2 linked regions of the Homo sapiens genome follow. The protein of the gene in region 2 interacts with the protein of the main gene of each other region in a biochemical or structural test. Each region holds a gene or a part of one and is shown on either strand. Other genes may lie near its edges. The genes, in order: UBE2H and POLL.

What was found.
Region 1: of the proteins of POLL (region 2) and UBE2H, one has a biochemical effect on the other in vitro, tested with the Homo sapiens proteins (one study listed by BioGRID).

Annotation. Positions count from the first base shown.
Region 1 is NC_000007.14:129,841,390-129,845,206, forward strand, and holds part of UBE2H (ubiquitin-conjugating enzyme E2 H), read right to left. Parts: intron 1-3,817. UniProt on the Homo sapiens protein: Accepts ubiquitin from the E1 complex and catalyzes its covalent attachment to other proteins. E2 ubiquitin conjugating enzyme that transfers ubiquitin to MAEA, a core component of the CTLH E3 ubiquitin-protein ligase complex.
Region 2 is NC_000010.11:101,581,673-101,585,427, forward strand, and holds part of POLL (DNA polymerase lambda), read right to left. Parts: coding exon 3,644-3,755; intron 3,248-3,643; coding exon 2,930-3,247; coding exon of another isoform or gene 2,764-2,929; exon of another isoform or gene 2,678-2,763; intron 2,010-2,677; coding exon 1,836-2,009; intron 1,220-1,835; coding exon 1,091-1,219; intron 1-1,090.

The sequences.
Region 1 (3,817 bases), on a different chromosome or scaffold from region 2:
TCTAGAGCTGTGTTACTCAACCGAACTTTCTGCAGTGATAAAAATGTTTTATATGTGCTCACCTAAACCAATAGCCACTAGCCATAAGTGGCTACTGAGCACTCAAAATATGGCCAGTGTGAATAAGGAAATTAATTTTCAGTTTATTTAATTCTAATTAAATTTAAATAACCACACATGGCTAGTAGATCCTGTATTGGACAGTGCAGGTCTAGAGAATGATGGGCTAGAGGGTCCCATGACAGCTACCACGTCCTGTTCTCACACACCAGGTATTGACACAGAGCAGCTCTGCCTTACAACAAAAGCCACAGACTTGGGGTGATTTCATCAGAGTCTATTTCACCTTCATAAGGCTGACTTCAGAACGGTCCTAAAGAGCCACTTTATAGTAAGGTTCTCATGTACCACGAAAGAAATCCTGACACTCCTAATCAAAAAAGCAAAACAAAAATCACCTTCCTATATAACCCCCAAACTATCTGCAGTAAGATTTTCACCAATGTTTTATCTACAATTTTTTTAAAAAGGGAAACAATTATTATGGTACAAAACCATTGAAAACTATTTGTTTTCAATGAAAAAAATGCTTATACTTGAATGCTGGGTAGAGAAAGGCCATAAAATGGTATGTTTTCTAGAATTACAACTATGTACAGTGTGTATGCATAAGACAAACATTTTAAAAAGCTACCTCAAGGCAATAGATGTGTAACTTCTACTTTTCACATTTCAAATGACATTTCTTTTGCCTTTAAAAATCAACATTTTTGGCTCACACCTGTAATCCCAGCACTTTGGTAGGCCAAGGTGGGTGGATCACATAAGGCCAGGAGTTCGAGACCAGCCTGGCCAACATGGCAAAACCCTGTCCCTACTAAAAAATACAAAAAATTAGCTGGGTGTGATGGCGCGTGCCTGTAGTCCCAGCTACTTGGGAGGCTGAGGCAGAATTGCTTGAACCTGGGGAGGTGGAGGTTGCAGTGAGCCAAGATTGCACCACAGTACTCCAGCCTGGGCAAGTGAGTGGAACCCTGTCTCAAATAAATAAATAAAATAAAAATAACATTTTCCTGTAAATATGTCCTTTCTATTTTGGCATATGTTTGAAATATCCAATAAAACATGAAAAGTCTGAAAATGTTTTTATTTTCTTATCTTTATCCTTGGGTGGGTGAGTTATTAAGGCAGTGGTAGAAAATGCCAAAAGGTAAGCAAATTCAGTTTTACAGGCCAGACGCAGTGGCTTACAACTGTAATCCCAACACTTTGGGAGGCTGAGATGGGCAGATCACCTGAGGTCAGGAGTTTGAGACCAGCTTGGCCAACACGGTGAAATCCCGTTTCTACTAAAAATACAAAAATTAGCTGGGTGTGGTGGCAGGTGCCTGTAATCCCAGCTACTTGGGAGGCTGAGGCAGGAGAATTGCTTGAACCCAGGAGGTGGAGTTTGCAGTGAGCCCAGACTGCGCCATTGCACCGCAGCCTGTGCAACAAGAGCAAAACTCTATCTCAAAAAAACAAAAATAAAAACAAAAAACAGTAGTTTTACAATTGAATGTGATCCCATAGCAGGGAAAAGTTAAACAATAGTTACATTAACAGTAATTTTTTTTTTTTTTTTTTTTTGAGACAGAGTCTTGCTGTCAACCAGGCTGGGGTGCAGTAGTGTGATCTCCACTCACTGCAAGCTCCGCCTCCTGGGTTCACGCCATTCTCCTGCCTCAGTCTCCCCAGCAGCTAGGACTACAGGCACACGCCGCCACATCCAGCTAATTTTTTTGTATTTTTAGCAGAGAAGGGGTTTCACCGTGTTAGCCAGGATGGTCTCGATCTCCTGACCTCGTGATCTGCCCGCCTCGGCCTCCCAAAGTGCTGGAATTACAGGAGTGAGCCACTGCGCCCGGCCCATTAACAGTAATATTAACAGTAATGGCAGGTTAATGCTTACATAGTGCTTACTACAAGCAAGGAACTCTTCCATGGTCTGCATATACACTCTTAATTTCACTACAGTCAATGAGGTAGGCACCATTTTACAGATGGAGAAATTGAGGCACACAGAGCTTAAGTATGGATCAGGAACTCAAACCTGAGCTCATCCACTATGCTGCCTCTGTTAATGGATAAAACACACACTGCCGCTGCCGCAAATTTCACGAAGGCACAAGCTCCCCATGTCTCTGGGTCAAAATCGCATACCATCGCTGGCAGGGAAGCTAAATCCATGGATCAGAGATGATCACCCTCCTCCCCAAAGAATCCCTCACAAGTGCAAAGAAGCATGCTAAGCAAAGGACGTTCAGATGTTTCTGTGGCTATTCACAGAGACGGTGTGCTTGTTTTCATGCAGCTCCACCGCAGGAGGTAACCCGCAGACACCTGCACACAGCGAACGGAAGGCTCCTCCTGCCATATTATTATTACAGGTGCTGCTCAAAAGGATTAGCAGCTGGATGCTATTACATAACAACGAAAACCTTTAAAAACAAAGCATAGGTTTTATGTTCTGAAGTAATGTTCAGAAGTGCTTCAGGGCTAGAGAAATATCACAGACAACGTGTTATAAAACTAGGAGTTTAGCGTGTCCCAGAAAGAGATTTTATACCCTTTCCTACTACTTTTAAGTTTCCTCAAGCTACCAATAAAAGGCTTTGCCTATGAATTTGTTCCAAACAAATAAAAGAACCCTTAATTATTGGTTCTTCCTTCCTGTATCTACCGTCTTCCTGCATTAACACATTTTTGATCCATTTTACAGAAGTGCTGAGTCACACCTGTAAAACAGAAGAGCAGAAAAGGAAACACATGAGGCCCAGTTTTGGGTGAAGATGACAACTTCGGGAGGCCAGGATGTGATGGCTCTGCCATCTTAAAGCAATAAGGCCTTCCTGCAAGTGGCTAACACAGTGATTACTCCTAAGGGTGCTTCTGAAAGGAGCATCTCTCAAATGTGCAGATGTGCAGAAAGTCTTCTTTCAAGATAAATACACTGGCAGAGAAGACTAAAACTATAAATCAAGAATAAAATAAAGATACTCATCTGTAGAAAAATAAAGAACACTTTTTCCCTAGATTTTTGTTAATGATAAAACGATAAAAATGTGTCGATAATAATAACGATAAAAATGTGTCAGTTCAAAGATCTTTATCTAAAAACATTAACCTTCAATTTTTTTAAAGGAAGAGAGCCAGATACAGTTGACCTAAACCTGTAGAGTACAGTCAGCCGACCCCATTTCCGCCTGTCTTAACTTTTAAAGGAAGTCCCAAGATTCCTGAGTATATGGTTTATGATGAGCAAACAGCTCTTACTTTTGCCTTAGACTCAATTAGAACCAAAATGTGGTTCATTAGCACTGACTCTTCAGTCTGATCTTACATTAATGTTAAAATTATAACACTCATATCTCAGTTTAGGCATATAATTTATATTCATATTTACTATTTAAAAACAGGCTGGGCACAGTGGCTCATGCCTGTAATCCTAGCACTTTGGGAGGCCGAGGCAGGTGGACTGCCTGAGGTCAGGAGTTTCACACCAGCCTGGCCAACGTGGCAAAACCCTGTCTCTACTAAAAATACAAAAAATTAGCCAGGCGTGGTGGTGGGCACCTGTAATCCCAGCTACTTGGGAGGCTGAGGCAGGAGAATTGCTTGAACCTGGGAGGCAGAGGTTGTAGTGAGCTGAGATTGTACCACTGCACTCCAGCCTGGGCAATGGAGTGAGACTCCCAAATCATAAACAACTTATCATCAAAAGTAGCATCACTTAGTCTAGAGCAGTGGTTCTGGGCTAAGTCTAGGTCCTGCTTGT
Region 2 (3,755 bases):
TTTTACATGAACCTAATCGCTAACCCAACTCTAAACCAAACCCAAATCTTATTTCTTGGACAACTACAAATCTTAACTTAAAAGCAACCAACATTAAGAAAATCCTACGCCTAATTAAAGCCTAACTTTAACTCAATCTTTTTTTTTTTTTCAGACAGAGTCTTGCTCTGTTGCCCAGGCTAGAGTGCAGTGGCACAATCTTGGCTCGCTGCAACCTCCGCCTCCCAGGTTCAAGCAAATCTCCCACCTCAGCCTCCCAAGAAACTGGGATTATAGGCATGAGCCACGGCACCCGCCTAACTTTTTTGTATTTTTAGTAGAGACGGGGTTTCGCCATGTTTGCCAGGCTGGAAATTTTTGTATGTTTTATAGAGACAGGGTTTCACCACGTTGGCCAGGCTGGTCTCGAGCTCCTGAGCTCAGATGATCTGTCCACCCTGTTCTCCCAATGTGCTGGGATTAAAGGCATAAGCCACTGTGCCTGGTCTTAACTCCATCTTGATGGAGCTTTCTTCCAGCCCCAAACCAAATCCTACTGACACTGTGCTTTTACACCAACTCTACCCCAAATCCTGAGCCAGCCTTGCGTGGGCTTTAGAAGGTCCATACATCTGGAAAAAGACATAAACCTTTGCACATTTGTGCATTTTGGGGAGAAAACAGTCCACAGTTTTCATCAGGTTCTCAAAGAAGTTGGTGAAATAAAAAAAAAAGATAAAATAAAATATTAAAACCCTCTGCCCTGACCCACCCTAACCTCAGTACAGATATAATTCACCTGTAATCTAACCCTAACATTAACCCAATCCTAACACCAATCAGTCTAGAATTGAATCCAATCCTAATAGGCCTGACTACTGAGAACCAGAATCTAGAGGGCTGGTGTTACAGCTCTTTCCTCCCAAAGCTCCCCACCCCCACCTCTGGGCCTGGAGCTTCAGTCTTAACTTGCTCTGTGCTCAACCTCTGGTGATCCACAGTTTCCTCTGCCTGCTGTCCTCCCCAGCTGAGGAGTTGGGGGTTCTTGGCTTTGACCCAAGACCTTACAGCAGGACCTGGCTGTCCTCACTGCTCTGGGACACCTGCTTACTGTCTGCTCAATCTCTGTAGCCTCCTCCCTGGGCATACGTTCCAGGAAGTCACTGTAATGCTTCAGGCCGATGGCCTGCTGGGTTGTCAGGGAGGCCTGGCTGCGGATGTCTTCCAGACTTCGGAAGCCCTGGAAAAAAGCAGCCAGATGGGAAGCTGTAAGGATCCAGGACCAATGAAGAGGCATGAGTGAGCACACACACAAGGCTTCCATCGCCCCAGACTCTAGGGAAGGCTAGAGGCAGGACCAACCTAGGGGCAGTTGGGTCTGTACTCAGCAGGACTTGGGAAAGGCAGGGAGCATGGGAAACATGCCATCATCCAGCCCTGCCACTATCCTAAGATGCTCGTTCATGATTCCATCAGTCTGAGGATGGACCTTGTCATCTTCATCCTTACCAAGCTGCCCTGGTGATTGTGGGCAGAGCCAGGATTGGGAACCACTGCTCTAGACACGCAGTGTCAAGGCCTGGCCTCCTCAGGAAGGCCCTTGCTGGTCTGGGGAGACTGAGAAACATACTTCTTGTCCCTGTCTACTCCTTCTTAAGGATACCAAGCAACAAGGCTGTTCTGGGAGCTGAGGGGTCTATATGAGTCCTGGTCCGCTTGAAAAATGGTCTCCCTATACTGTGGGTGCATTCCCATCAGAGCACAGCATAGGGATCTGGGGCAGAGCACAGCACACATCTGGGGCAGGAACTCTGAGACACAGCAAAACTGAAGTAGGGGCTGAGCCAGGGTGTGACCTGTTGGTACCACATCTGGGCAGTCTTGGTCCCAGCTCCCCAGATGTTGGAGAAGAGCTCCAAGACAGGCACGCTCTCACTGATATGGTCCAGCTTCCGCAAATGCCCGCTCTCCAGGATCTCTATGATTTTCTCAGCCATCCGCTTCCCAATCCCAGGGATACTGCAGGCCTCCTAGAGGAGGAGGAGGCAGAGGCAAGAAAGAAGAGTGAGGAGATGGAAGAGGTAGAGCCAGTGGAAAGGAAGCTGACTCCTCTAGCAGATGCTGACATAAAAGCCAGCCTGGCTGCTTGGCAACTGTGTGGCTGTGTAAAGCTTGGGTGTAGTTGAAGATGAGAATTTTGGATAGAATGAGGGCTGGGTAATTTGTCTTTTGGTTCCCAGAAGGATGGAGACCAGCAGTAAGAAGTAGAAAATAATGATGATATTAGTCACCACCACCACCACCACCATCATCATCATTCCAACAGCAAGAGCTAACATTTACTGAGGGCTTACTCTATGTCAGGTCCTGTGCTACAGGGACCATTTCATTTAATAGTAGCCCCTTTTTACTAATGAGAAAACTGATGCTTTGAGAGTTTAAGTAACTTGTCTGGAGTCACACAGTTAGTGAATGACAGGAACCAGAGTTCAAACCCTGGTCTGTTAGGCTTCAGAGTCCAAACTTCTTTTAAACAACTTTTTAGGCGGGACACAAGGGCTCATGGCTGTAATCCCAGCACTTTGCAGGGCTGAGCCGAGGGTAGATTGCTTGAGCCCAGGAGTTCAAGACCAGCCTGGGTAACACGGCAAAACACCATCTCTGCTAAATAAATGAATAAATAAATAAATAAACAAAATTAAAAATAAAAAACTTTTAATTATGTTAAAAAATTCAAAAGTAGAGAGATCCATATAACCCCCAAGTATCGTACATCTCCCAGCTTCAACAACTATCAAGATTTTGCCAATCTGCTTTCATCAATTTTCCTTTTTTTTCTTTTGTGCAAGTCCTAGACCCCATAAAATCTTCACCACTGTACCTGAACCCCACTGGGGTTACTAACCACTGGCCAGTAAAGACCCCTCCTCCCACTCTAGCCCCTGGGTACCTGGTACGAGGTGACAGGCTTATGGAAGCTCTTGAGGGCATTGATGGCCTTGGCATAGCCCAGGGCCCTCCACTTGTCTCCCTGAACACTGTAGGCTTTGGCCAGAACTTCCAGCTTCTCTGTGATATGGAGGTTGTGATTGGTCGCCTTCTGGCTTGAGGGCTGTGCACAGACCCACTTATCCAGGACAGCAGGGGCTGGGCTAGGCTCACAATCTCCCTCAAGGGAGGTGGGGTAGTGGCCACTGATGAGGGCTTCCAGATCAGCTGCACTAACCTGGGTTTCTTCCCCATCACTGGCTTCATCATCAGAGATGGGCTTGGGATAGAGAAGAAAAGAAAACAATAAATTCTTGTTCTCCAAGAGAAGGGATCCTTAAAGGTGGGGGTCATCTTCTTTGTGCGGGGGGAGGGTCTTCTAGTCAGACCTAAGAATGAGGCGGGGCCTTCTGCATCAGACTTGGATCTCCTTGGGTGTGAGGCCACGTTCCCTTTGGCTCCACGCAGTGCCTAGCCCTAGGATCCCCAGTGGTATGTGTTAGATATGGCCTAGATAAATGCAGCAGTGATGAGTGTTGGGAAGAGCTAAATGGCTTCACAATAGAGCCCTCCTCTCTCAGGGGCCTGGGACTTTCTGAACAGCCACCAGGCCCACCCCATTTCTGTGATCTGCTTCCTAGGGGAAGGGAGTTCTGAGGGATGGGAGGCTCCTGACCTGGGCTTGGGTGTTTGGTGCCTCTTTTGCCTTTTGGGGAGGAGACACAGGCCTGGTGGGAGGAGGAGGAGGAGAAAGGGCTGTCTGAAGCAGGGCCTCATGGGTGCCAGGA